Homo sapiens: one gene and its partners. The protein of the gene in region 1 purifies or fractionates together with the protein of each later gene. This does not show direct contact. Each region holds a gene or a part of one and is shown in the gene's direction. Other genes may lie near its edges.

The links.
Region 2: the proteins of TMOD1 (region 1) and LRRFIP2 purify together in Homo sapiens (affinity purification with mass spectrometry; 4 studies listed by BioGRID and IntAct, with this or other methods). This does not show direct contact.
Region 3: the proteins of TMOD1 (region 1) and TBC1D4 purify together in Homo sapiens (affinity purification with mass spectrometry; 3 studies listed by BioGRID and IntAct, with this or other methods). This does not show direct contact.
Region 4: the proteins of TMOD1 (region 1) and FLII purify together in Homo sapiens (affinity purification with mass spectrometry; 4 studies listed by BioGRID and IntAct, with this or other methods). This does not show direct contact.
Region 5: the proteins of TMOD1 (region 1) and NIN purify together in Homo sapiens (affinity purification with mass spectrometry; 3 studies listed by BioGRID and IntAct, with this or other methods). This does not show direct contact.
Region 6: the proteins of TMOD1 (region 1) and SCIN purify together in Homo sapiens (affinity purification with mass spectrometry; 4 studies listed by BioGRID and IntAct, with this or other methods). This does not show direct contact.
Region 7: the proteins of TMOD1 (region 1) and DBN1 purify together in Homo sapiens (co-immunoprecipitation; 3 studies listed by BioGRID and IntAct, with this or other methods). This does not show direct contact.

Annotation. Positions count from the first base shown.
Region 1 is NC_000009.12:97,595,230-97,599,330, forward strand, and holds part of TMOD1 (tropomodulin-1), read left to right. Parts: intron 1-4,101. UniProt on the Homo sapiens protein: Blocks the elongation and depolymerization of the actin filaments at the pointed end. The Tmod/TM complex contributes to the formation of the short actin protofilament, which in turn defines the geometry of the membrane skeleton.
Region 2 is NC_000003.12:37,055,737-37,060,048, reverse strand, and holds part of LRRFIP2 (leucine-rich repeat flightless-interacting protein 2), read left to right. Parts: intron 1-1,138; coding exon 1,139-1,259; intron 1,260-4,312. UniProt on the Homo sapiens protein: May function as activator of the canonical Wnt signaling pathway, in association with DVL3, upstream of CTNNB1/beta-catenin.
Region 3 is NC_000013.11:75,286,670-75,290,169, reverse strand, and holds part of TBC1D4 (TBC1 domain family member 4), read left to right. Parts: intron 1-1,059; coding exon 1,060-1,236; intron 1,237-3,144; coding exon 3,145-3,378; 3' UTR 3,379-3,500.
Region 4 is NC_000017.11:18,246,115-18,249,138, reverse strand, and holds part of FLII (protein flightless-1 homolog), read left to right. Parts: coding exon 1-12; intron 13-255; coding exon 256-339; intron 340-417; coding exon 418-589; intron 590-1,105; coding exon 1,106-1,210; intron 1,211-1,290; coding exon 1,291-1,482; intron 1,483-1,781; coding exon 1,782-1,970; intron 1,971-2,086; coding exon 2,087-2,226; intron 2,227-2,310; coding exon 2,311-2,545; intron 2,546-2,676; coding exon 2,677-2,831; intron 2,832-2,916; coding exon 2,917-2,977; intron 2,978-3,024. UniProt on the Homo sapiens protein: Is a regulator of actin polymerization, required for proper myofibril organization and regulation of the length of sarcomeric thin filaments. It also plays a role in the assembly of cardiomyocyte cell adhesion complexes.
Region 5 is NC_000014.9:50,757,708-50,762,019, reverse strand, and holds part of NIN (ninein), read left to right. Parts: intron 1-108; coding exon 109-230; intron 231-1,660; coding exon 1,661-2,163; intron 2,164-3,389; coding exon 3,390-4,312. UniProt on the Homo sapiens protein: Centrosomal protein required in the positioning and anchorage of the microtubule minus-end in epithelial cells. May also act as a centrosome maturation factor.
Region 6 is NC_000007.14:12,622,277-12,626,588, forward strand, and holds part of SCIN (scinderin), read left to right. Parts: intron 1-524; coding exon 525-617; intron 618-2,733; coding exon 2,734-2,866; intron 2,867-3,485; coding exon 3,486-3,574; intron 3,575-4,307; coding exon 4,308-4,312. UniProt on the Homo sapiens protein: Ca(2+)-dependent actin filament-severing protein that has a regulatory function in exocytosis by affecting the organization of the microfilament network underneath the plasma membrane.
Region 7 is NC_000005.10:177,459,683-177,463,994, reverse strand, and holds part of DBN1 (drebrin), read left to right. Parts: intron 1-1,568; exon of another isoform or gene 1,569-1,763; intron 1,764-3,291; coding exon 3,292-3,351; intron 3,352-3,439; coding exon 3,440-3,563; intron 3,564-4,254; coding exon 4,255-4,312. UniProt on the Homo sapiens protein: Actin cytoskeleton-organizing protein that plays a role in the formation of cell projections. Required for actin polymerization at immunological synapses (IS) and for the recruitment of the chemokine receptor CXCR4 to IS.

The DNA of each region.
Region 1 (4,101 bases):
AGAACGTTTATTTTTTAGCAATTTTGAAATGTATAATACACTATTATTAGCTATATTCACCATGCTGTGTAACAGAGCTTTATAAAACACCTTATTCCTCTTGTCCAACTGAGATTTTTGTATCCTGTGGCCATTATCTCCCCATTCCCCACCCACAGCTTCTGTAATGACAGTTTTACTCCCTGCTTCTATGAGGTCAATTGTTTTAGATTCCACATATAATTTGTCTTTTTGTGGCTGGCTTATTTCACTTAGTATAATGTTCTCCAATTCCACTCATGTGGTTGCAAATGAACAAATTTCCTTTTTTTTTTTTTTTTTTTTAAAGAAAAGGCTGAATCGTACTCCATTGTGCATATATCCCCCAGTTTCTTTATCCATTCTTGTTGATAGACACTTAGGTTGATTCCTTATTTTGGGTATTGTGAATGATGCTGCAATGAACATGGAGTGAAACATCTTTTCAACTGATTTTAATATTTTGGGTAAATATCCAGAAGTGGGACTGCTGGATCCCAAATCAGTTTCATCATAGTCCCCCAAACCTATCTCAGAAAAGGCAGCCAGGTACGGTGGCTCACACCTGTAATCCCAGCACTTTGGGAGGCCGAGGCAGGCGGATCACCTGAGGTCAGGAGTTTGAGACCAGCCTGGCCAACATGGTGAAACCCTGTCTCTACTAAAAATACAAAAAATTAGCCGGGCATGGTGGCAGGCACCTGTAATCCCAGCTCCTTGGGAGGCTGAGGCAGGAGGATCGCTTGAACCCGGGAGGCAGAAATTGCAGTGAGCCAAGACCACACCATTGCACTTCAGTGTGGGCAACAAGAAAACTCCATCAAAAAAAAAAGAAGAAGAAAAAAAGAAAAGGCTACTCCTTTCCTCACAGCCACCCAAGCCAGAAATCTGGGCCTGTTCCTAGATGCTGCCTCCACCCCAGCCAGCCAGTCACCTCCTTGCCAATCCCAGTGTCCTGCCGTGTATGTTGAGCCCTCGTCACAGTTATCTCCTCCAACATCCTCAGGCCCCCAGCTCCTCCAGGGCAGGCACCCCTGGCACTCATCCCAAGTCTCCTTCCGAAGCTTGCCTTGTCACCCCTCCACTTAGAACCCTCACTTGCCTCCCATTGCTCTCAGTCAGGCCCCTTGAAATGACTCCCAAGTCTCTTAATAATAGCTGACTCTTACATGGCACTTACTGTGTGTTAGAGACTGTTCTGAATACTTCCCATCTCACTAGCTCATGTAGTCCTCCCCACAACCAGGTGAGACAGGTGCTATTGTTATCCACACTTTACAAGAAGGAAACAGAAGTCTAGGGAAGTAGGTAATTAACATTACCCACAATCCGTGGGCAGGACCGGGATTTGAATTGGCAATGTGGCTCCAGTGCCTGGGTGCTCCACATTGGGAGATGGTCCCATCAGGAGGTCGTCTCTTGACATCTCCAACAAGCCATCCCTTTGCCATGTTACTACCATTCCAGGTAGCCTGAGTGCCCCCAAGTGACCAAGGAAAAGCTTACCCTTAGAGGGTCTTTACTCCCAATGCCCCCCACCTTCCCATCCTCTACCTTTTTGTTGTTTAAAATTCAGCTGACCTGTTAGTTGCCACCTGGGAAGGTCTGACCACTTCATTCTTTATGCCTCTCATACCTCAGAGAGCTGCCAGGGCATCTCTAATACTTCATATTTCTCAAACAGTAGTTCTCAAACATTGTATATCTTGGTTCCTGTTATACTGTGTCTTTACTTCTGATTCTTGTGCTTGGCACACAGCACTCAGTACATGCTGCCGAATATTTAAATGAATAGAAAGTGCTTTCCAAAAACATGATGGAAATGTTCAAATTTGGCAAGAAGTGGCAGAGGAGTTCAAGCAGCAGATGGAGGTTGGTCCGGACGACTGGAGAGCCCTTCTGGCATTCACAATAAAAGGAGTCTCTGGCTCTTGCAATAAGCAGTGAAGAGTTTTTTAAAGAAAGTAAAGACCAGACAGAATTGAAGGAGGATATTGGGAGACCCAGCTTTTACTCCCAGTTTTGTGACTTATTCGTAACTTGGAATAAGTTACTTCCCTCTCCTGGTCTCAACTTCCTTCATCATTAAAAAGGGAAAAAAATAATACCTGAATAAATGGATGCCTTTCCCTTCTCTCCATCCAGTCCCTGAAAAAGCCAGTGCCAGGGGGCCGGGTGGGGTGGCTCACGCCTGTAATCCCAGCACTTTGGGAAGCCGAGGCAGGCAGATCATGAGGTCAGGAGATCAAGACCATCCTGGCCAACATGGTGAAACACTGTCTCTACTAAAAATACAAAAAATTAGCTGGGCATGGCAGTGCATGCCTGTAGTCCCAGCTACTTGGGAGGCTGAGGCAGGACAATTGCTTGAACTCGGGAGGCGGAGACTGCAGTGAGCCAAGATCGGGCCACTGCACTCCAGCCTGGCAACAGAGCAAGACTCCGTCTCAAAAAAAAAAAAAAAAAATAGGCAAGCCAGTGCCAGGGGAACCATGCACACACACACACAGATCCGGCCCAGTGGACACAATGAGGGCAAGTAATGGAAAATAACCCCCCCACCAAGCCATAGGGTCCTTTCTGTTCCCTCAACCATGGGCCAGGGACTTGGATTTCAGTCCTGGCTCTGCTGCCAGCTCTCAGGGACTGGGGCTCTTTTCTTCTGCAGGGAGAAGGAGCTAATCCTCCCTGTGAGAATCAGATGCGATATGGATATGGAAACCCTACCCACACAAGGCTCAAGTCTACTGAGGGAGGCACTGGACTGAGGCTCAAGATGAGTCAAAAGTCTTGGTTCTAGCTGGGTGCGGTGGCTCATGCCTGTAATCCCAGCACTTTGAGAGGCTGAGGCGTGGGGGATCACTTGAGGTCAGGAATTCGAGACCAGCCTAGCCAACATGGTGAACCCCCATCTCTACTAAAAACACAAAAATTAGCCGGGTGTGGCAGCGGGCACCTGTAATGCTAGCTACTCAGGAGGCTGAAGCAGGAGAATTGCTTGAACCTGGGAGGCGAGGTTGCAGTGGGCCAAGATTGCGCCACTGCACTCCAGTCTGTGTGACAGAGCGAAACTCCATCTCAAAAAAAAAAAAAAAAAAAAAAGGCTTGGTCCTGTCTGGTACTAGCTTTATTGCTTTAAGCAAGAAATATACCCTCTCTGCCATACTTTCCTCATCCATAAAATGGGAATGGTAACTAACATTCCAGCAGCGTTGGAGGGGCTCCGATGAGGCAATGAGGATGGCCCTGGTGGGCATGCCTGCACAGCTACTATGGAGATGCTTAAAAGTCTGGTTCATGTAAACTCTTTGGTCACGTTGAGCAAACCTCTTGTGCTCTTTGGGTTTTGGTTTTTGTCCCCTCACATCTACCCCCAAGAAGTTGGACATTCTGATCATCTAAGGAACTGGGCTGGCCCCACCTCCCTTGTGGGTCTGCTTTGTATGGCCAGTGTCATGCACAAGCTGATTTGGTTTTTGTTGCAGCTCGTATTCATCGATCTGGTGGCTGCAGGTCTACCGCCTCAGCTTGGGAACCTGAAGACATCTAAGTATAGACGGACTTTTTTTCCCTCCACCATAGCTTCCTGTCTCTGCCAACACCAGCAGGCCTCTCGACTGCCACCTACTGGCTCTACAGACTTCTTTGACCTTTCTCTTGTGGCTCATAGAGCTTGCTGCTTGGTCTTATCTGCAGACACTACAATTAATTTCAAAACACTCTCCCTTGTTACAACAAACAGAGCCCCTCCTGCCCCTCCCTGCATCCTCATCATCCTTTAAGCTAACGTCTCCAGCCTGCAACCTCCTGGCTAGTGCTTTCCTCTTCATGGCATTTAACTACTTTGTCACTTGAACAGTGTTGAGCATAACTGTCTTGCCCCCGGGGAAAATGGCAAGGTTAAACATAAGGGGATACAGATACTGCAGGGTAATCTTTCGGGTGGAAACTCTCGTTTATATAGGCAGGAGGTAGGCCAGGAGCTCCCAGACATAGCTGGGGGAAATGTTTCCACCTGGTTAAGACCCTAATCTCATTAAGAAGACTGACTAAACTTTTAACTCTTATCTGAACACCGGAGTA
Region 2 (4,312 bases), on another chromosome or scaffold:
AAATAGGAATGATGGAGATACTGAGATTTGTCCTGGTTCCCTCAAGGCAGCTAATGATGGTGACCCTGTGTGTTGAAAGGGCAGAGGTGCCTGGGAAGTATAGAGTTAGTCCCAATATAGAGCTTACCCTTTTCCCATTGGGGAGTGGCAAACTTAATCTTAGTGCAGAGGCCTCCCTTTGACCCCTGTTGGTGGAGTTAAGGACAGCTGGGGAAGCCATCTCTATGTATCCAATTATTATTATTATTATTTTTTTTTTTTTTGAGACAGAGTCTCGCTCTGTCACCAGGCTGGAGTGCAGTGATGTGATCTCCACTCACTGCAACCTCCACCTACCAGGTTCAAATGATTCTCCTGCCTCAGCCTCTGGAGTAGTTGGGACTACATGCGCGTGCCACCATGCCCCACTAATTTTTGTAGTTTTAGTAGAGATGGGGTTTCACCATGTTGGCCAGGATGGCCTCGATCTCTTGACCTTGTGATCCGCCCGCCTCAGCTTCCCAAAGTGCTGGGATTACAGGCGTGAGCCACCGTGCCCAGCCCCAATTATTTTTACATACAGGATGTTTTCTAAGTAAGAAAATTTAACCTATGTCTAAAAGTAAACAACAAAAAACTGCTCATGGAATCTTCCATTTTAAGAAATAATCTCTTGAATATACCCTATCAGTTAACTGTTTATATTTTTGTTTTATTTTTTTTAGAGATGAGGTCTCACTGTGTTGCCCAGGTCGGTCTCAAACTCCTGGGCTCATGTGATCCTCATGCCTCAGCCTCCCAAGTAGCCTGATACATAGGTACATGCCACTATGCCTGGCTAGAATTTTCCATTTTAAATAAAAGTAACAAAAAATACCCCAAAGATGTACTGTTCCATAAGCAGACACAAATTTAAAATATGGCTATTTTCTACTGGGACACCTGGTCCTGGGGCTTGCTCTTTTCGATGTTTGTTCGTAGCTTATCTTTAGCACCTAGGACGATGTGTGTCTCCTATTAGGCACTCAAGAAAATAGGTTTTGAATGAATGTGGCTGATACGATAAGGGTCTGCTTTGTTCTATGATGTGACCATAGAATAAGCATCGGCTTCATTTGAGAGATTGGATCTTGCTGATGAACCTTTATTTTCATTTCAGATTAGAAAACTGAAGCTTCAGTTAGAGGAGGAACGACAGAAATGCTCCAGGAATGATGGCACAGTGGGTGACCTGGCAGGACTGCAGAATGGCTCAGACTTGCAGTTCATCGAAATGCAGAGTAGGTACCAGGGGACAGGCCAGTCCCAGTCTGTATATAGACTGTGTCCCAGGGGTGGGTTTGTCAGCAGGTTGCTGGTATCTTGTAATACACTTTTCTTTTTTTTTTTTTTTTGAGATGGGAGTCTCACTCTGTCACCCAGGTCAGAGTGCAGTGGTGCAATCTCCGTTCACTGCAGCCTCTGCCTCCTGGGTTCAAGTAATTCTCCTGCCTCAGCCTCCTGAGTAGCTGGGATTATAGGCGCCTGCCACCATGCCCGGCTAGTTTTTTATGTTTTTAGCAGAGACAGAGTTTCACCATAGTTACCAGGCTGGTCTCGAACTCCTGGCCTCAGGTGATCTGCCCACCTCAGCCTCCCAGAGTGCTGGGATTACAGGCGTGAGCCACCGCGCCTGGCCGTTAATATGCTTTTCTTAAGAAGAGCTATGCTGCAAAAATTGGTTAGTCCTTGGCTAGTCCAGAAAAACAGTCCTAGTCAGCAATATAGCTGAATAGAGGCTCCACTAGCCTGTGTGCTTCAGGGGATAATGAGGTTTATTGCTCTTACCCTTTCTGGATAAAGTGATTTCTAGGAACTTTTTGCACACAGTGAAATGCCTTTTGACAACCTGGCACTGTCCTTTTCCACATCCATTTGTCATCTTTAAGCTCCCATACAGCAAGCACCCTTCCCCATTAAAGTTTTTTCTCTGGAATTTGTCTTGGATAATTGGACGAATCTATTTGGAACTACTTCACACTAAATTGAGTAGTTTCAGAATTTTCCTAGAAGTATTTTGTTAATCCAAGTTTATCTTTATTAGATGAAATTTAAAATAAGTCCACAAAATAAAGTCTATTCTATTCATTTTACCCGAATTATTCCAGTTTTTCTCATTTTTCTACTTCTGACCTCATAATAAAATGATCACTGCAGTCACACTAATTCCCATAGTAGGAAGATTTCAGCAGGAATTTGTAGTTAGCCTTTGTTAGTGATTATGTGTAATTCTCGGACAGAGGAGATTTTCATTTTTCCAATAAGAATAGTGACTTTTCTGATAACTAATATTAAAATCTTGTTTATTCCATGGACTTTTCATCTAAACCTTCTGAGATAGGCTGCCAAGAAAAGACATGTTGGGGCCAGGCGTGGTGGCCCGCACCCATAATCCCAGCATTTGGAGAGGCTGAGGTGGTGGATTGCTTGAGCTCAGAAGTTTGAGACCAGCCTGGGCAATGTGGTGAAAACCCGTCTCTTCAAAAAAAAAAAAAAGAGAAAAGACTTTTTGGGTTAAGGCTTATTAATACTAACTTTTGATATTGGTATTATCTTTTCTGTTGGACATCAGTTAGGACACTTGTGACATTTCCTGGTGAATATTTTGTTCAAGAATGTCATTTTGGTGTTGGCGGTAGATGAGAACAGGGACATGGGAAAAGGCAGGCTGACTAGTTAGGAAGCTACTACAGTGGTGAGCCTGAACCAGTTCAGTAGCTGTCAGCAGTCTTAGAGAGAGGGTAGGGAATAGATCTGAGAGATTGTCCTTAAGCAGCAAATTTAAAAGGAAACAGATTTAGGGGGAATGGGCTGGCATTTATGTGTGAATACTTCCTAGAGTAGGTAGGTTGTTGTATAGCTGGTATTTGCAGAAGGTAAAGTACCCAGGCAGGAGGTGTAGAACAAAGTGAGCTTTGCAGGACTGTGGGAAAGCTGGCAAAGACAAAAGCAAGCAGCTTCCCTGGACCAGAAGGCCAGGAGTGGAGCAACTCTTGGTTCTGGATGGTGCCTTGCCTATTATGAGAGTGTTTTGGAATGGGATTTCAAAACACACATGAAGTTACTGAGATAAGAGACTTAAACTTTTGAAAACAGGAAGGGAAAGGTGGTTTGGAGAGTGAGAAGGAAGAAGTACATTTGGATAATCAATAGATTGCTGAGGATAACAATTTAAAAATCAGATCCTGAAGCTTGTTTTAGGGCTCAGAAATAGGAATACTTCTCTTTCACTACCAGATATGGCTTTTGGGGAGATGGTAACCCTGTTCCTTTTAAGGTGACAGTAATTGTCCAATTAGAAAAACCTCTCACCACTTTAGGAGGCTGAGGTGGGTGGATCACGAGGTCAGGAGATCGAGACCATCCTGGCTAACATGGTGAAACCCCGTCTCTACTAAAAATACAAAAATTTAGCCAGGCATGGTGGCGGGTGCCTGTAGTCCCAGCTACTCAGGAGGCTGAGGCAGGAGAATGGCGTGAACCTGGGTGATGGAGCTTGCAGTGAGCCGAGATCGCGCCACTGCACTCTAGCCTGGGCGACAGAGCGAGACTCCATCTCAAAAAAAAAAAAAGAAAAACCTCTCACATTGAAGACTGTATAAGTAATTGTAACCTTGGTCATGTGGAAATGTAGAAAAGTTCTTAAGTTAGATAATCTGAATATTTCCTGTGGTATGTTAGATTTGGTTTATCTTTTGCAAATCTTATTACTGTAATCATGCCAGAGACTGATTTTTGCTAAACTTGGATTCTTGGAGGGATTTTAAAAGTCCCCTGCCATCATTTCTAAACTTTTCATTTTAAGTGATTTACTTCCTAGGTCAGATGTTCATCTAGTAACTTATAGCTCTACCCATAACACATTATCACATTACTGAACAGCATTTATTCCAACATATATTTATTTAGGCATACACTGTGTGCACTTGGCTAGGTACATAGGTAGATTTAGGAAGGCCAAGACAGGGCCCCTCTTCTTGCTTACACATACGATGTTTAAAAAGCATGACAAATGTCATAAAAATGCAAATAAAATACAGCAAGGGAAGGACTTATAATTAAGGGGAGTCATGAAAGAGGTGAAAATTGAGCTTGGCCTTGAAGCAAGTCAGAGGTGGGAGAAAAGGACCCTTACAGTATTGGACAGCAGAAGCAAAACCTGGGAGATGGGAAGGCATGGGGCCGCGTTCAGGGAACTAGAGGGCCCAGTCCCGTGGGCAGGGAGGCTCCACAAGGTTACACACAGGGTTGGTAGGGGCTGCTGCTGAATTGGCAGGGCTCCTTTCTCAAGCCC
Region 3 (3,500 bases), on another chromosome or scaffold:
TTGTACATAAATGAAATCATACTATATATACTATTGTGGAACCTGATTTATAATTAAAAATATAAAGTATTAGATTTTTTCCAGTAACTATAAATCCATATTATCATTTTTAATGGTTGTATAATAATCCATTGTATCCATACCCACTAAGTAAGGAAAAGATGATGGTTATTTGAGGATAACCAGTTAGTCTAGAAATTCTCTTATTAAAATTCGAATGTTTGAGTATCTCTATTAGTAAGTAGTAGAGTAAGTCAGGTTTTTTGTGGTTTCTTTTCTCTTCTCAGTGTTAGTATAGACACCATTGCTTGAATAGCAGCTGTTGTCTCTCCTTCCCCCTAGGAAGTTTGGAGTAACTGTCCTCTAGCTTCAAAGCAAACGACCTTCCTATTTAGTGGTGACATGGGAGAGCAGTAGCAGCCCTAATTAAACCTTACAGCCCTGGACAGTGCTCACAGTGTGCAATTTTGAGGATTCTCTGTGTGGTACAATATGTAAATGACTCTTAAGAGGCTTACAGGGAATAGCAAATGGATGCAAAATTTTATTAAGATCTTTCTGCTCCATTGGCAAATAAATTAGAAATGCTTTTGGTTGCTTTATTACAGTAATACCCTATGCAATTTTGCTTACTAATCAGCAGAGATTATCTCTAACATAATAATTACTCAATAACTAATGTTGTTTATCTAGTATACTACATTTTGGGAGACAGTTACTAGATTATGAATATCTTAGCTGCCAAATACACTTGGACATTAATTTATTCTAGGGACTTAGCTTCATGAGAATGTTTCAATTGCATAGAAATAATCTATCTGTTCTGTTTTTAAAGAAAATCTTCTTTCACAGAAAGAGCTATCTGTTTTTATGTTGACAGTGTAAACTATATCTAATTTATTCTTGTATTGACAGTTACACTTTTTTTTTGCTTTTTTATGCTTTAATGTTCTTCATTAATAAGTATTTGGAAATATACATGAAATATACCAAGATAAACAGGCTGTATCTTGTTATACATACCAAAGGCTAGCCTAACCCATGATACTTTCATGGCAGGTTTTTGAGATGGATATTTCTAAGCAGTTGCATGCCTATGAGGTGGAATATCATGTGCTACAGGATGAGCTTCAGGAATCTTCATATTCCTGTGAGGATAGTGAAACTTTGGAGAAGCTGGAGAGGGCCAATAGCCAACTGAAAAGACAAAACATGGACCTCCTAGAAAAATTACAGGTAAAGAAATAAAGATTTGAGCAAATAAGTACTTCAATGCCTCCTGCATGCACAGAACTACCTCAGGAATGAAAGGGATATGTGCGTGGAATGAACCATTGCTAACCAAGAGCCCATGTATCAGACTGTCCAAGTGCTCTGGGGCTACAAATGACATGTTAAATTAAACATTACTTGGAAAAAAATGCACCCTCACAAAATAGCTAAATGGCAGTTCAAAGTGGAATCTGCTTAAATACCTGTTGCATGTTATAGATATTTGGTTAAATTAAAGGGAGGAGGAATTGAATGTAGGAAATTGATGAAGTTGTGAAGGACCTGGGCTTGAGCTGGAATCTGGAGGGTTGGTGGAAGAAATGAGTGAGGAGGGTCTTTAAGTCAGGCTGAGTAGGAGGGTGGCATCAATCAGAAGGACATGGCAGAGCAGCAAAGTTAGCCTAGTGTCAATTTAAGATAGAGGTTGGGGAGAGGTAGGGTAAATATGATAGAGGCAGAATCGTAAGTGACTTTCAGTGTCAAGCCAAAGAACATGGCTTTAATCCTGTCAAGAGGGAAATCTCTCAAAGTTTTTGGGCCATGCTGTAGAAAGATCAATCTGGGAACCTTGACGAGGACAGATTGAGATGGGAGAGAAGGTAAGGAGGCCTGCTAAAAGTCACTTGTGAAAATCTGTTGCGGATGATGAGAGTTGTCTAGACTAAAATGGAAATTGGAAGAGAGGGAGACATGTCTAGGTAAATTGAATCCCATGCAAATGTTACATGTAATATTAATACATCATTCCTGCCATCAGGGAGTTCACAATTATTTGAGAATATAAAATACTATATATCTGTCTCTAAGCGCACACTTATACATGCAATAAGAAATTTATTATAAAGTCATATTCGGTATTTGCAACTTGTATGATGTGTGCTATGTAGCCATGCCCTGAGGGGAGGGGCTTAAGAGTGATCACAGGATGGGGGCTAGCAGGTGACCCTTCTGAAGTCTTCGGGGAGATGACTTCAGGGGAGTTTCAGTGTCTAATGGCTCCTCGGTTTCCACTTACTCCTCCTCTCCATTTCCCCAACACTGCACCTGGCTACAAACTGGAAAACACTAAAACTCTGCTTCTATATGGTGAGTCCCCTGTCAAGACCAGTCAAGAGAGACAGGTTAGAAATGAGGGATCTCTAAAGTAGTTGCTTCCCAAGAATGGGAACACTAAACTTCCTTCGCTTTGTCTTACATTGGCTCTGGCTCATAGAAAATGTAAATCTTTTTTTCTATTCAAAAAAGGGCAACATACTCTATTTTCAAAAAGAAAACTAAATGGTTAGTATATTGTCCATTTTTAGTTGGATAGGTCAATGGCGATTAATTATTTGCCCCTTATTAGGGAAGGTGGGTTTGTACCTGTTTTATAATGATTCGTCTGAACTGTTGTAGACTTTTTCACTGACAGTTCAGTGTAGTCATCATCAGTTACTTGGCCACCCCTCACATCTATAAATACTGATGAAAGCCCAAGTGTATGTTTAGAGAACGCCGTATTTCAGTCAGAGAAGGAAAATCTCTTTTAGCACTGCAATAGTGTCAGGAATCTCCTGTTTCTCCTTCAGCCAGGCCAGATCCCACTCACTCAGGGGAACACCAGTGGGTGTAGAATAAGGATTCCTACTGTTGGTGAGGGGGGTGATTTAGTATTGAATTATTCGTGTGTTCAGTGAGAAGAGATGAAGCATGGTAGTTCCATAGTTACATCTTTGTGAAACCTAATAAATCATCGTTTCCTGTAGGTTTTCAGAGTATTTGCTTCACATAATATTTTATTAAGTAATTTGAAGTAATTGGTTAATATGTGTAAGGACTGTCTCCTACTATAATGAATCATTTGATTTGGAGGATTTTTTCCCCCCCAAACAGGTAGCTCATACTAAAATCCAGGCCTTGGAATCAAACCTGGAAAATCTTTTGACGAGAGAGACCAAAATGAAGTCTTTAATCCGGACCCTGGAACAAGAAAAAATGGCTTATCAAAAGACAGTGGAGCAACTCCGGAAGCTGCTGCCCGCGGATGCTCTAGTCAATTGTGACCTGTTGCTGAGAGACCTAAACTGCAACCCTAACAACAAAGCCAAGATAGGAAATAAGCCATAATTGAAGAGGCACGGCCTCAGCAGAAAGTGCTCCTTAGAATACTACAGAGAGGAAGAGCCTGCATGTCGCTGGCCCAAGGCTGGACCCTGAAGCTGATGGAACCACCTAATACTGGTGCTGAG
Region 4 (3,024 bases), on another chromosome or scaffold:
TCTGGACCCAAGGTGAGCCCCAACAATGTGAGGTGGGGGTGCTTCATCCTCAGCCTCCTCCCCACCAGTGGGGGCAGGTGTGGGCCTCTTAGAAGAGGAGGCCCTCTAGCAATTCCTGCCCACGAGCTTGGCGGGGGGTCCCTGGGGCTTACCCAGAAACCCCATAGTGAGGGATTTTTTTTGGTGGGGTCAGGAGCATGGGGTGACCATTGCCCCATGCACCATCACAGCTCCTTCCTGCCCCTTCTTGTCCAGGTTTGTTTTCCTGCTGGACCGAGGGCTAGACATCTACGTATGGCGGGGGGCCCAGGCCACACTGAGCAGCACCACCAAGGCCAGGTACAAGGACACCGTGGGGTCTTTTGTGTGAAGGAAAGGGGTGTGAGCCTCGCTGATGACTTTGCATCCTGCTCTCAGGCTCTTTGCAGAGAAAATTAACAAGAATGAGCGGAAAGGGAAGGCTGAGATCACACTGCTGGTGCAGGGCCAGGAGCTCCCAGAGTTCTGGGAGGCACTGGGTGGGGAGCCCTCTGAGATCAAGAAGCACGTGCCTGAAGACTTCTGGCCGCCGCAGCCCAAGCTGTACAAGGTGAGCCCTGCTGCTGAGGCCCACCTTGGCCTCCCAAGTTCACCCACCGACTGGGGGAATGGACTACACACCGATGTAGTTGGCTTTGGGCTCCATCTCGACTTTGGTGGGGAGAGGGTGCCACCTTCTGGACAAGGAACAGTATGAGCAAAGGTCTGGAGGCTGCTTTTGAGAAGTAGCCTCACGGAGTCTTTCCAGGATGGTGGGGCCGTAGGGGAGACAGAAGCACCTAGTGCCAGGGCTGGGAACCTTGGCTCAATTATCTAGATTCTTGTGAACAGGAAAGGGACACGTTAATTAGAAATGGCATGAAGGGCCTGGAGAGGGCAGGCAGGGAAAACTCCATTTAAAAGCCCTTCTGAAAGGATATCCCTAAAAAGACCTTGAAGGGGAGGGGGAAACAGAAGCAGTCAGTGAGCCACGCTGCAGGGCAGGGCTGGTTCCAGAGCAGAGGGCTGTGTGGGTGAGGTTCCTGTCTCCAGATCCCTTCCCTGCCATGCTCATCCTTCCTGCCAGGTGGGCCTGGGCTTGGGCTACCTGGAGCTGCCACAGATCAACTACAAGCTCTCCGTGGAACATAAGCAGCGTCCCAAGGTGGAGCTGATGCCAAGAATGCGGCTGGTAAGAGATGCAGGAGGAGGGCGTGGGGCCAGATCCCTCCCCGTTGGCTGGGCTTTGACCTCCAGACTCCCGGTCCGCAGCTGCAGAGTCTGCTGGACACGCGCTGCGTGTACATTCTGGACTGTTGGTCCGACGTGTTCATCTGGCTCGGCCGCAAGTCCCCGCGCCTGGTGCGCGCTGCCGCCCTCAAGCTGGGTCAGGAGCTGTGCGGGATGCTGCACCGGCCACGCCATGCCACGGTCAGCCGCAGCCTCGAGGGCACCGAGGCGCAGGTGCGCTTGCAGCTTCGGAGGCCCCTCCCCAGGATCCTTCGCACCCTGACATGCCCTGACCCCTGTGGCTTCACTACCTCCCTACAGAGCTGGGCCCAAACCCACCTCCTCTTTGCTGACTCTGCCCAGGCCCCGCCCCCTCTGCAAGCTGCCCCTCCTATTCCTACCTCCGTGTCCGAGGCCCCGCCTCCCAAGCCCCGCCCTAGATCTCCCTTGGGTCCCGCCTCAAGCCTCGGGCTACTTCCTCCAACTCTAATCATGCCGCACCCCTCATGGTTAGTTGATGGCCTCCCTGGCAGGTGTTCAAGGCCAAGTTCAAGAATTGGGACGATGTGTTGACGGTGGACTACACACGCAATGCGGAGGCCGTGCTGCAGAGCCCGGGTCTCTCCGGGAAGGTGAAACGCGACGCCGAGAAGAAAGACCAGATGAAGGCTGACCTCACTGCGCTTTTCCTGCCGCGGCAGCCGCCCATGTCGCTGGCCGAGGTGGGGGCAGGGCCGGGACCGGGGCGCGGGGGGGGGGGTGGGGGGCAGGCCGAGGGCGGGGCCTATGCGCAGAGCGCGCTCAGACCTGCCGCGGGGCGGGTCCCTCTCACCTGCAGGCGGAGCAGCTGATGGAGGAGTGGAACGAAGACCTAGACGGCATGGAGGGTTTCGTGCTGGAGGGCAAGAAGTTTGCGCGGCTGCCGGAAGAGGAGTTTGGCCACTTCTACACGCAGGACTGCTACGTCTTCCTCTGCAGGTACCACCTCAGCACTCCCTTCCCCAAGTCCCTCCCCTGGTGCTGGGGGCTCGAGCCCCTGCTCACAACCTTCCAACCCGGCAGGTACTGGGTGCCTGTGGAGTACGAGGAGGAGGAAAAGAAGGAAGACAAGGAGGAGAAGGCCGAGGGCAAAGAAGGCGAGGAAGCAACCGCTGAGGCAGAGGAGAAGCAGCCAGAGGAGGACTTCCAGTGCATCGTGTACTTCTGGCAGGGCCGTGAAGCCTCCAATATGGGCTGGCTCACCTTCACCTTCAGCCTGCAAAAGAAGTTCGAGAGCCTCTTCCCTGGGAAGCTGGAGGTGTGCCTGGCAGCCCCGCGAGCCCGAGGCCAGGCGGAGGGGTGTGGTGGGGCTCAGACCCAGCGAAGGTTAGGCTCCCGAGGGGCAGGTGGGGGTCCAGGGAGCTGCCCCTAACACTTCCACATCCCCAGGTGGTACGCATGACGCAGCAGCAGGAGAACCCCAAGTTCCTGTCCCATTTCAAGAGGAAGTTCATCATCCACCGGGGCAAGAGGAAGGCGGTCCAGGGCGCCCAACAGCCCAGCCTCTACCAGATCCGCACCAACGGCAGCGCCCTCTGCACCCGGTGCCTGGCTGGGGGAGGACGCAGTGGCGAGCAAGCGTCAGGGAGCCAGGCCTGAATCCTTGCTGATGCCCCATCCCTTCCACAGGTGCATCCAGATCAACACCGACTCCAGCCTCCTCAACTCCGAGTTCTGCTTCATCCTCAAGGTGGGGTTGTGGGTGTGAGCCAGGACTCCGTGGACCAAGGGGTGGGG
Region 5 (4,312 bases), on another chromosome or scaffold:
TTCAGGCTGAAAATCATTCCTTAGTTAAACTGGATGTCCCTCCTCAGATGCCACACTGTGTTATTGAAAGAACCTGCTGCAGGATCAATGAGTCCCATGTGTTTTCAGGGCTCGGTTCTGAAGAATGCAATCCATTGAATATGAGCATTGAGGCAGAGCTGGTCATTGAACAGATGAAAGAACAACATCACAGGGACATATGTTGCCTCAGACTGGAGCTCGAAGATAAAGTAAGTCCTTCCCACCAATCCACTTCTCTAATTTCTTTTGGCTCTGACAGGCTTATGTGTGTAGGGCATTTCCAATTCTTTTTTCTCATAGAGCAGCACATTCTATGTTGGGAACCCACATCCTCAGGATGGTTTTGTAGGCTGACAGCAAGGCCCCTTTTTTCTGGAGAGTTTCTCCAAAATGTAATATCTTCAGCCCTGGCAATCATGGAACTTGAAGCTTGAAACCCATTATATTATCTCCCAATTTCTTTTTTAAAAACATCTCAGTGAAACCAAAAAAAGCCCTTTGATGTTTCATTGCCTACTAAATTAGGTACAAGTTCTGAACCTTGGCCTCTAAACTCTTCACCATGAGACTTCAACTGACGTTTCCAGTCCAGACTTCAACTGACCGTTCTTATGAGTTACCTTATCCTCCAGCTAAATTGGGTAGTTCCTAGTTGTCCATCACACTCTGTCCTCTTTTGCTTGTGCTGTTACAAACTATGCTGATATTAGTTTCTTTCTGCCTCTCGAAAGTCTACTTACCCTTCAGGATTTATATTTAATGCTGCCTCTTGCATGAAGCCATTCTTGAATTTCTCCAACTAAAATGTGATTTTTTTCCCTCCTTTGAGTCCCTGGGTTACATTGTAGCTCTTTTTTGTATACCTTTTATTTTCTGCCTCCTACTGTACTTATAGTTGTCATATCCATGTCTAGACTGGTTTCTCCTGGATAGCAGGGACCATATCTTACCCAGCGTTGTATTCCGAGGCCTGCAAGTACCTGATAGGTGTTCAATTAATATTTGAATTTAATTAAGTATTTTAAGACCCAGCAGGGTACAGTGGCTCATGCCTGTAATCTCAACATTTTGGGAGGTCGAGGTGGGCAGACCACTTGAGCCTAGGAGTTCAAGACCAGTCTGGGCAACATGGTGAGACCCCGTCTCTACCAAGAAAAAAAAATTAGGGCACGGTGGTGTGTGCCTTTAGTCCCAACTACTCAGGAGGCTGAGGTGGGAGGATTGCTTGAGCCCAGGAGATGGAGATTTCAGTGAGCCATAATTACGCCACTGCACTTCAGCTTGGGTGACAGAGTGAGAACCTGTCTCAAAAAATATATATGTTCCAAGACTCAAGTTTACAGTTGGAAAGGATGCATGGGAAGACAGAGGGTAGCTATGTGTAATGGCTGCTCAGTTCTTAATAAGGTTGTTCAGACACTAATAAAATTCAGCCACTTAAAAGAGATATGTAAACCATGCCTGACTTAAGTATCTTGCTTAAAGTGTTGAATTCAGTTACTTTAAAACAAGATAGAGAAATGAGAAATGTCTTGTAGGGAAAAAAAAAAAAAAAAAAAAAGCAATTGCTGCTCCATCACTTCACTTTCAGTGACCTTGAGCTGAGTAATCTTGTGGTGGTGTCACTCTGTGCCTTCAGGTGCGCCATTATGAAAAGCAGCTGGACGAAACCGTGGTCAGCTGCAAGAAGGCACAGGAGAACATGAAGCAAAGGCATGAGAACGAAACGCACACCTTAGAAAAACAAATAAGTGACCTTAAAAATGAAATTGCTGAACTTCAGGGGCAAGCAGCAGTGCTCAAGGAGGCACATCATGAGGCCACTTGCAGGCATGAGGAGGAGAAAAAACAACTGCAAGTGAAGCTTGAGGAGGAAAAGACTCACCTGCAGGAGAAGCTGAGGCTGCAACATGAGATGGAGCTCAAGGCTAGACTGACACAGGCTCAAGCAAGCTTTGAGCGGGAGAGGGAAGGCCTTCAGAGTAGCGCCTGGACAGAAGAGAAGGTGAGAGGCTTGACTCAGGAACTAGAGCAGTTTCACCAGGAGCAGCTGACAAGCCTGGTGGAGAAACACACTCTTGAGAAAGAGGAGTTAAGAAAAGAGCTCTTGGAAAAGCACCAAAGGGAGCTTCAGGAGGGAAGGTAAGAAAGTGAAGGGAAATGAAGCTACCTGGGGCACCATCCCTCGGGGCATTAGAAGTGCCAGTTGTGGCTGGGCGCGGTGGCTCACGCCTGTAATCCCAGCACTCTGGGAGGCCGAGGTGGGCGGATCACGAGGTCAGGAGATCGAGACCTGGCTAACATGGTGAAACCCCGTCTCTACTAAAAATACAAAAAATTAGCCGGGCGTGGTGGCGGGCGCCTGTAGTCCCAGCTACTCTGGAGGCTGAGGCAGGAGAATGGCGTGAACCCGGGAGGCGGAGCTTGCAGTGAGCCGAGATCGCGCTACTGCACTCCAGCCTGGGCGACAGAGCGAGACTCCGTCTCAAAAAAAAAAAAAAAGTGCCAGTCGCTTAAGAGACTTGAAGAAGTCAGAAGGCATAATAGCCCATTGATTGAGTAGACTCTTTTAAATATTTTTTTACTGTTTTTGCCATTATTTTGATGTGAACCTACCTTGGGATGATTGGAACTGTTTTTATTTTGTTATGTTTGTAAAAGAGGAAAGTATTCCTCGTATTAAGATTTATTCTACCTTATAAGGCTCAAGAGGAGGATAAGATTATCCCAAAAGTGGTTCCTTCCTAGTTCAATCCTGTTGCTTTCTGAGAAAAGCTATTAATAAACTGGATTCCAGGCAAGGTTACATTTCCTCCCAGAGTTAAGAAACAGCACTCCATGCTTACATTCCTCATGTGAAATCCCAGGTTTATTTGAGGGCTTTGTTTCGTCACACGCTGATTGACTTGGTGCTACTTCGTTAAGTAAGAAGCAAAAGCAGAATGAATTTGTTCATATGTGTCATTTATGTGACTGATATCCTATAACGCATGCTTAATTAAAATGAAGGAATGGTATATATTTCCCAAGTGAGGAATTAGATTAATATACATTTGGTCATTTGTCTTTGGTTTAAAAATCCATAAACAAATACATCCGGGAGTGTGCCAGAGAAATTAGTTTCTAAGATTTCCCCCTAACTCCAGAGAGAGGTAAGTCTTTTAAATGAATTATGGCTGCCAGTCTTAGCTTTCAGAAATGAGATCCCTTTCCAGTATAAATGAATCACATAGGAGTAAGTTAAGAGCATTTTTAGGGAGTATTTCAGTTGTTTGCTCAGCAGCTTTCTCAGTGCATGGGAAAATGGTTTTTGTTTGCTTCTGGAGTTGGCGGCAGTTTCAATAATGCTGTATGTTGACTATATTTAGGGAAAAAATGGAAACAGAGTGTAATAGAAGAACCTCTCAAATAGAAGCCCAGTTTCAGTCTGATTGTCAGAAAGTCACTGAGAGGTGTGAAAGCGCTCTGCAAAGCCTGGAGGGGCGCTACCGCCAAGAGCTGAAGGACCTCCAGGAACAGCAGCGTGAGGAGAAATCCCAGTGGGAATTTGAGAAGGACGAGCTCACCCAGGAGTGTGCGGAAGCCCAGGAGCTGCTGAAAGAGACTCTTAAGAGAGAGAAAACAACTTCTCTGGTCCTGACCCAGGAGAGAGAGATGCTGGAGAAAACATACAAAGAACATTTGAACAGCATGGTCGTCGAGAGACAGCAGCTACTCCAAGACCTGGAAGACCTAAGAAATGTATCTGAAACCCAGCAAAGCCTGCTGTCTGACCAGATACTTGAGCTGAAGAGCAGTCACAAAAGGGAACTGAGGGAGCGTGAGGAGGTCCTGTGCCAGGCAGGGGCTTCGGAGCAGCTGGCCAGCCAGCGGCTGGAAAGACTAGAAATGGAACATGACCAGGAAAGGCAGGAAATGATGTCCAAGCTTCTAGCCATGGAGAACATTCACAAAGCGACCTGTGAGACAGCAGATCGAGAAAGAGCCGAGATGAGCACAGAAATCTCCAGACTTCAGAGTAAAATAAAGGAAATGCAGCAGGCAACATCTCCTCTCTCAATGCTTCAGAGTGGTTGCCAGGTGATAGGAGAGGAGGAGGTGGAAGGAGATGGAGCCCTGTCCCTGCTTCAGCAAGGGGAGCAGCTGTTGGAAGAAAATGGGGACGTCCTCTTAAGCCTGCAGAGAGCTCATGAACAGGCAGTGAAGGAAAATGTGAAAATGGCTACTGAAATTTCTAGATTGCAACAGAGGCTACAAAAGTTAGAGCCAGGGTTAGTAATGTCTTCTTGTT
Region 6 (4,312 bases), on another chromosome or scaffold:
CCAAGTGCCAAGGATACAGCAGAAAACGAAGCATGATTTGGGTGATCAAGAGCTTGCACTTCATCCTATATGTCAATAATTATAGTAGTATTTTACCTCCAAATAGTAATTTTGATTCAAATCTTTATTATAATAAACTCATAAAACTGAGAGATTATTTCTAGAAGCAGAGGTCATAGAAGAAATTCTGCTGCAGAGCTGAACATAGAGCTCAAATTTTAATTAATTCCTTCTAGCTTTCAGTAATATGGACACCTAGGCTCTCAAATTAGGGATTTTCCTTTCTTGAAATTCATTGTTTGAGGTTGCAAACAAGCAACCTCAGTGCTTGTTTACTTAATGCAATTGATTGATTTGGCCTATATGAAAAGGACTACCTTGTATGCATTGATGAGAAGTGTTTGAGCCTGGTCATTTTAATTGCAAATATTTTATAATCCATGTCTTTATAAGTGTATTTTTCTAACTCTGCATCCTTCAATGGGAGATCTTTATCTTTGCATCCACTGCTCACTTTTTTCCAGGTCTTAGGGGAAAAGCCAGAGCTTCCAGATGGAGGTGATGATGATGACATTATAGCAGACATAAGTAACAGGAAAATGGCTAAACTATACATGGTGAGTTCACTGTAACCAAATTTATTGTTTCAACAGTACTGGATGTAGCTAGGGAGGCCTGTATTGGGCGGGATTCCCGTTGCTGCAGTTGAGAACTCTCCTCATTGCTCTCCAAGAGCAATGTGTAGATAGAATCAGTTCTTTGCTCTTGTATGTTTTTTTAATTAAGTTTTAATACTTTTTGTTATTTTTATGAAAAACAACAAATATGTGAACTTATTGCTGTGACTTCATAAAATTATATATTGTTGCTGTACTAGTTTGCAACGATCTTTTGATATATAATACTCAATACAATGTTTCCTTTATGGAGTAAAAATATTTTATCAGCTTTTTCTTATAAATTCTTGATAAGAATGTAAAGTCTTCACCCTATTTAAAACATTGTCTTTAGCCATAATGAAGGAGTTCTTTGTTACAGGAGGGCTGAGCTACCAAATGAAACAGCTGGAGGGAAACAGGGTAAAAACAGTTCTGTTCCAGGCATTAACCTACCTACTTCCATATCAGCTCTATAGCACATGATTAGGAGCATGACTTTGCACAGGACATAACCACTCTGGGTCTAAGTATTCTTATGCACACACAACAAAGAAAGTAGGTTCCTTCCAACTCTATAGTTTTTTTTATTCTTTGTTTGTTTGTTTTTTCTGTTGAGGGTAACAAAAACTGCAAGACACTCCAGTTAAGGAGGTTGCTACAGTGGTATTCTTCCAGTGTTCCCTCCCCTTGCAACTTTCTAAGCGTGTGATTTGGAGCAGATCGTAAATCTCCATGCAGAATTTAGTAGTTTTCTCATCTGTAACAGAAAGAAACTATATTTGCTGCTCTTTAAGGGATTTTTGGCTCCGAAACTCTGTGATTTTACATGAAGACCAAATTAATAACTTGTTTAGCGTAATTTCCTTTTCATAATGAATAAGTGGATTTTTTTTCTTCTAGATGCAAAAGGAAATATGGTTACCATTTCTGCTAAATACTGGTAATTTTAATATGAGCCATACAGAAAGTGTTAGCTAAATATTTTGTGACTGCTTTTAAAAATTACTATTTCTAAAACTCATTTTCAACAGCCTAACAGATATCTTTTATTTCACATCATCAACCAAAACTGTTCTCCCTCCTGGACAGCATTATGAACTAAAGAAGTATTTTTAAATGGGAAAATATTCATCCTGAGTCATAGCTTCCTCTAGTGGAGCTATGCTGTATTACATGGATATAAAGTATAAAGTTCCTTTGAAAATAATTCGGGTTTCTTAACAAGGCTGGCAAGCAAAATCACCTGGGGCATTTTCAAAACTACAGAATTCAGACTCCACCCTGGTCCTGCAAAACTCCACTAATCTAGGGAGGGCTCTGGAATCTGTATAATAGGTAACTAAACTGTAGCATACAAGCTGGCCATTGAAAACCAGTAAATCCTAACCTGCACATGAATATCACTTTCAATTTTGTAAGACCACTTAAAAATTTGTTTTAATAGTCTGTAGTCATTTCTAAATGTGACAGAAGAAATTTACTTTGATAATTTATACAAAGTTTACTTAAATTGCAGGACCTATGTTGAAAAAATCTTTGTGCATAAACTATATCAATATCCTCCTTAACAAAGCGACTGGTATATGGTAGACAGTAAATGTTGACTGAGTGATTGTTTAAACTTCATCTTGTGTGTATGTAATGATTTTAAGATTATTACCTACTTGAAAAGATTACTCTAAAATGTACAAGAAATAATCATGGAAAGTTAATTACATGATGCTTAGTACATAAGAGCATCTGAATAGACCTCAGCCATTATTATTATCACTATTCTTTTCTGATGTTTTAGGCACAGTGTCAAAACTTAACTTTTTATTTGTAGTTCCTTTACCCCAAAGGACTTTCAAAAAAATTAGAGTATAATTAGTCTTGTGGATTCTTTTCATTTTCTTTGAAACAGTTTTATTGAGATATAATTTATACACCATAAAATTCTTGCATTTAAAGTGTACAATTCAATGCTTTTTATTTGATGACATTTACCGAGTTGTACAACCATTACCATAATCTAATTATAGAACATCCTTATCATCCCCAAATGAAAACATGGAGGTCATGGTTTTTATATTAGGTTTCAGATGCAAGTGGCTCCATGAGAGTGACTGTGGTGGCAGAAGAAAACCCCTTCTCAATGGCAATGCTGCTGTCTGAAGAATGCTTTATTTTGGACCACGGGGCTGCCAAACAAATTTTCGTATGGAAAGGTAAAAAATTCCATTGACGATGCTGTATTTCAGATTTATAGATATTTCCTCTATAAGGGTAAATAAAATATATTTTTTGATTTTAAAAAAAAGCCCACCTTTTAATTAAGACATGATCTATAAATGTCTCACATAAAATGCAGCCATTTTCCTCCTACCAACATCATATACCAGGGATTATGGAGTTAAAAAAAAAGCATTTGGGCAATATAAAAAGAATTGTTTTACAAATAACGTTTTTTCCTGTATTGTTAAATACACTTAATATACCAGGAAATTTTTGCTATTCTTTTTTTTTTTTTTTTTTTTCCGTCGCCCAGGCTGGAGTGCAGCCCGCCACCACGCCCAGCTAATTTTTTTGTATTTTTTGTGGAGATGGGCTTTCACCGTGTTAGCCAGGATGGTCTCGATCTCTTGACCTCATGATCCACCTGCCTTGGCTTCCCAAAGTGCTAGGATTACAGGCGTGAGCCACCGCACCCGGCCAATTTTGCTATTCTTTCACTGCTGTATTTAACTTCAATTATAATCATGTTTATTATGGTACACAAGTATTTCTTAATCATAGAATGTCTTCCTTCTCTGAAGTTCTTTCTCTTTAATTTACCTTGTATTTTAGGTAAAGATGCTAATCCCCAAGAGAGGAAGGCTGCAATGAAGACAGCTGAAGAATTTCTACAGCAAATGAATTATTCCAAGAATACCCAAGTATGTGTGAAACTGAACTGGCTAGAAAAAAATAGAAAACATTGGAGCTCATGACATCTCCACGAAACTCATGAAAAAGTTTGGGTCAAAGTAACGTCTGTATGTGAAGTGATTCTCCACCTGCCTGTCTGCTGCAATCTGGTGTCCCTCTTCTTTATCTGCGTGGGGGTTAGAATTTTTTAGAAACTGCACATCAGACTTTCCATAGAGCTGCCCATTCACTTCCTCCACAGCCTTTAATTCAAGATAGTAAACCACAGTAGGTTTAGCTAAGAGCACTTAAGAGTTATTATTCCTTAGAGCAAGTTGTGCAGACTTGGCCTGAAACCCAGATGATATTTGTCTTCATCGAAATCAATTTAGACCCTGGCTAGTTACTCCTTTCCTTTCCGAATCTCTCAGCCTCATCTACTCTCCTCATTTTTATGTCCCTGCACAAGGAACACAATGAGATCATTTCTTCCAGGTCACAGAGCTCTTGTGAACCTTATGTAGAAAGACAAACTTATTTTACTGCAGGGGTAACATATTAAAGAACTTGATTCTTCTCTCAAATATTCAAATTCAGCGGCAATTACTTTAGTTGTGAGAAAAAGCAATTTTGGATTATATGAGCTTGATAGCTAAACCAGGATAATTTTCCATTTCCTTACTTTTGTCTCCACTGCCAGATTCATATTTTCCCTTAATTTCTTATTTTCCTGTTTACTATTATTATTATTTTAAATTTCAGATTCA
Region 7 (4,312 bases), on another chromosome or scaffold:
TACAGGTGCACGGCTCCATGCCCGGCTAATGTTTGTATTTTTAGTAGAGACAGGGTTTCACCATGTTGGCCAGGCTGGTCTCAAACTCCTGACCTCAGGTGATCCTCCCACCTCGGCCTCCCAAAGTGCACTGCACCCAGCCCTGATAAAGTTTATTTTTTTGCTAACATTTCAAACATACACACATGCAGGTAGACAGAATAGTGTTGTGAACCCCCTGAGCTGATTTATTTTCACCAGTTATCAACATTTCAGGTAAAGTCTGAAGGAGCTTACCATTATTTTATAGTCCCATCTGGCCCTTCAAGTATAGTTCACGTGAGAGTGACAGTGGACATTCTAGCAGGTCAGTGTGGTACCCTTTCAATTTCAGGTCCTCTAAGGAAGGGAATATGCGAGAGACTTTGGGATTTAGCACTGTGAAATGCTTTCTCTTGGCTTAAGGAGCTGTTGCTTTCTCTCCCCTGTTACGAATTGTGTTCCATATCTGAGTTCCCTTTTTGCCTGGCCTGCAGGGGAGCTCCCGTGTATCTGAAAATGCTTTAGGCACAGCAGTGGCTTTGACCCATGTGGTTAGTGCGTTGATCTCTCTCCTCCCTCTGGGCCTTACTTGTTTCAGTGTTCACATGGTTGGTAGTTTATTAAAGCCTTTGTGGAGGGCTGGGCTCAGTGGCTCATGCCTGTAATCCCAGCACTTTGGGAGGCCAAGGCAGGCGGATCATGAGGTCAGGAGATCGAGACCATCCTGGCTAACATGGTGAAACCCCGTCTCTACTAAAAAATACAAGAAATTAGCCGAGCGTGGTGGCGGGCGCCTGTAGTCCCAGCTACTCGGGAGGCTGAGGCAGGAGAATGGCGTGAACCCGGGAGGCGGAGCTTGCAGTGAGCCGAGATCTCGCCACTGCACTCCAGCCTGAGTGAAAGACTCTGTCTCAGATTAAAAAAAAAAAAGCCTTTGTGGTAGTTGCCTCTGGTCCTTTCTTTGAACAAGGCAGAGGAACCAACTGAGATTACAGCAGGCAGTGGGCAGAGCAGCAAAGGCTGGTGGGACACAGGCTCATGGGAAGGTGAAGAGCCTAGGCTGACTGGAACCCCGTGGGCTGAGGAGTGGGGGAGATTTGATTGGGAAAGGAGAGCAAGGGCAGAGGAGGAGTTTAGACTTCATTCTGGGGGTCACAAAGTTATCACTGAGGTGATAGCCCTCCTGAGGTGGGATACTACGAAGGGCCCTTCTCCCAGTGCTCCTGACATAAGCTAAAATTTTAGATTATAGGCTCAAAAACAGAGCAGCCCTGGGACTTCACCACCTTAGCAGCCCCTCCTGCCCAAGCTGCCACCTGAGCAGCAGGGGACACCGACTAAGAAGCCTTTGGTGTGTGAGTGCAGTTGAGCAAACATGCGCCCGCCTTGTGCTGGCCACCCACCCGGAGACCCCGGTCCTCATCCTGCGTTGCTCACAGCGGAGGGGGGAGGTGCCTCCGGAAACAGGAACTTAGGATGTGGTGTCATCGTGGTGGAAGCCAGGAGCACCCTGTGGGGACCCAGAGGAGGAAATGACCTGAACAAGCCTCTTGTTCAGAGGTCCTTCCCCAGGAAGCAGTGGCCACGCTGCAGCTGGAAACCAGAGGGCCTGGCCCCCGGGTGGGGAGCAGGCATTTGGGAGGGAGGCCAGTCTCCCATGCTGAGGCTTGGAGGTGGGAACGGGTGTGCCTGTTCTGGGAACTGACTGCGTCGTGCTGAGGACTTGATGTCTACATCTCACAGTATGTGGGAGCCTTGGGGTGGGGGCCGGCAGGGGGTGGTGTTGGAGAGGTGACGGCTAGGTCAGGCAGGGGTGGGGGACGTAGGCCAAGTGCGGGCGCTGCCCACCCAAAACAACGTGTGCAGTGGGCAGGTGAAGCCAGTAGGCGATGGTGGGGCCGGGGGTGAGCGGGTGGCACACGCCTGTCTTAAGGGGGCTGCGGCGAGGCCCCGGTGATGGCTGCTCCGGGCTTGCAGGTGATGTCGCCAGGGCTCTGTCACCTCAAGAGAAACTGGGACCCTCATCTCAGTATGAAAGTTCCTGGTTTTTAAGTGGTGGTAACTAATGAACATGGTTTAAAAATATCATACCAGCAAAACAAAAGCCATCTGTGGGTCATATTTAGCCAGTGCTTGCTGTGGCTCATGGGAACCCCTGAGGGATTTTAAGCTCAGGAAAATCATGGTCTGATCCGCATTTTGGAAAGGTCCTTTCAGGGCCTATGGAGAGCAAATAAGGCAGGTAGCAGTGAGGAAGGCTGGACCATGATGCCACGGTCCAGGCAGCAACATTGGGAGCATGGTGGCCCCGGCACTAGGGTAGGAGGTCCAAGAAGTTATCTGCAAAACAAGGAGCACTTCTGGAGGGCCCTAGGCACCTGCTTAGATATGGGGATGAGCAAGTGAGTGAGTGAGCCTGGTGCCCAGAGGCCTGGCAGGTCAGAGATGAGGTGGCTGAGGGCCCTGAGGGAAGAGAGGGGCTGTGTGACAGGGTTTGACGGGGCAGAGGTACCACCTCTGAAACCCTTCCTGCCAGATTGCGAAAGAAGCATGGGGGCTGTAAGAAGGCCAGAAGGGGCCGGGCGCGGTGGCTCACGCCTGTAATCCCAGCACTTTGGGAGGCCGAGGCGGGCGGATCACGAGGTCAGGAGATCGAGACCATCCCGGCTAAAACGGTGAAACCCTGTCTCTACTAAAAATACAAAAAATTAGCCGGGCGTAGTGGCGGGCGCCTGTAGTCCCAGCTACTTGGGAGGCTGAGGCAGGAGAATGGCGTGAACCCGGGAGGCGGAGCTTGCAGTGAGCCGAGATCCCGCCACTGCACTCCAGCCTGGGCGACAGAGCGAGACTCCGTCTCAAAAAAAAAAAAAAAAAAAAAAGAAGGCCAGAAGGCCGGGCACTGGTGGCTCATGACTGTAATCCATCCCAACACTTTGGGAGGCCAAGGCAGGAGGATCCCTTCAGCCCAGAAGTTTGAGACCAGCCTGGGCAACATAGGGAGACCCCATCTCTACCAAAAAATTAAAATTAGCCGGGCATGGTGGTGCACACCTGTAGTCCCAGCTACTCGGGAGGCTGAGGTGGGAGGATTGCTTGAGCCCAGGAGGCAGAGGCTGCAGTGAGCCGTGATTGTACCACTGCTCCCCAGCCTGGGTGGTAGGGCGAGAACCTGTCTTAAAAACAAAATCAATAAATAAAATACAGTAAAAAAGAAGGCCAAAAGCCCCTGTGGGGGGTAGGTGCACCAGACACTGTCCCTTTGGTTTCTAGGGTGACCATCGGGATGAGGAGGAAGAGACCCACATGAAGAAGTCAGAGTCGGAGGTGGAGGTGAGAGCTGGGGGCACCAGCCAGGTGAGGCAGACAGGGCTATCTCAGCTTGCCTGGCCCAGCCCCAACCTTTTCCTCGTGCCCTCAGGAGGCAGCAGCTATTATTGCCCAGCGGCCTGACAACCCAAGGGAGTTCTTCAAGCAGCAGGAAAGAGTCGCATCGGCCTCTGCGGGCAGCTGTGATGTACCCTCGCCCTTCAACCATCGACCAGGTAGTCCTAGGCCCCACCCCCCGTCCGGCCCCACTCCTCAGGTTGCGGCCCTGAGCCTCTCTGGGACTCTCTCAGAAGGGAGGCCTTGCCCAAGCAACCCTTGGAGAAGGCGAGACCCTTCATCCAGCGTGCATCCGCCCACCACTTCCCAGGTGGCAGGACCCCAAGAAGGGCCAGGGATGGTGGTGAAGTCGCTTGTGGCTGAACAGTGGGGAGTGCTAGGGCCTGTGGGGCAGCTCTGGCATGGGCTGAGGCACAGCGCTGGCCACGGGGAGCAGCTCGGCTGGGGTGAATTAGGTCTGGCCTGGAAGGCCGGAATGCATGCGTGCTGGGCTCTTGCCCCGGGCCTGAGGGAGCCTCCCGGAGCTTGCACCCAGGTGTCCCCGTTCCGCTTCTCAGTGTGCTGCTTCCGCCTCTCCTGAAGCTCTTCCCTGCCCTGTCTGCTGGTCTGAGTGTGCTTGCCCCATGCTGGGGTCCCGCCACAGGCCGTCCCTGCTGTACTGCTCCCAGGCTGGCTGTGTGTCTGGGGCTGGTGTGAGGCTGCGGCTGGCTTGGCTGATTGTGCCCCTGGCTGAAGGCAGCTTGGACATCCAGGGCCAGGCCCTGGGGGCGGGAGAGGCCTCGGGCAGGGGTGGGGGAGACTGACCCTCTCTTGTCCTCTGTCTCTTTCTCTGTCTGTCTCTCTCGGCAGGTCGTCCGTACTGCCCTTTCATAAAGGCATCGGACAGTGGGCCTTCCTCCTCCTCCTC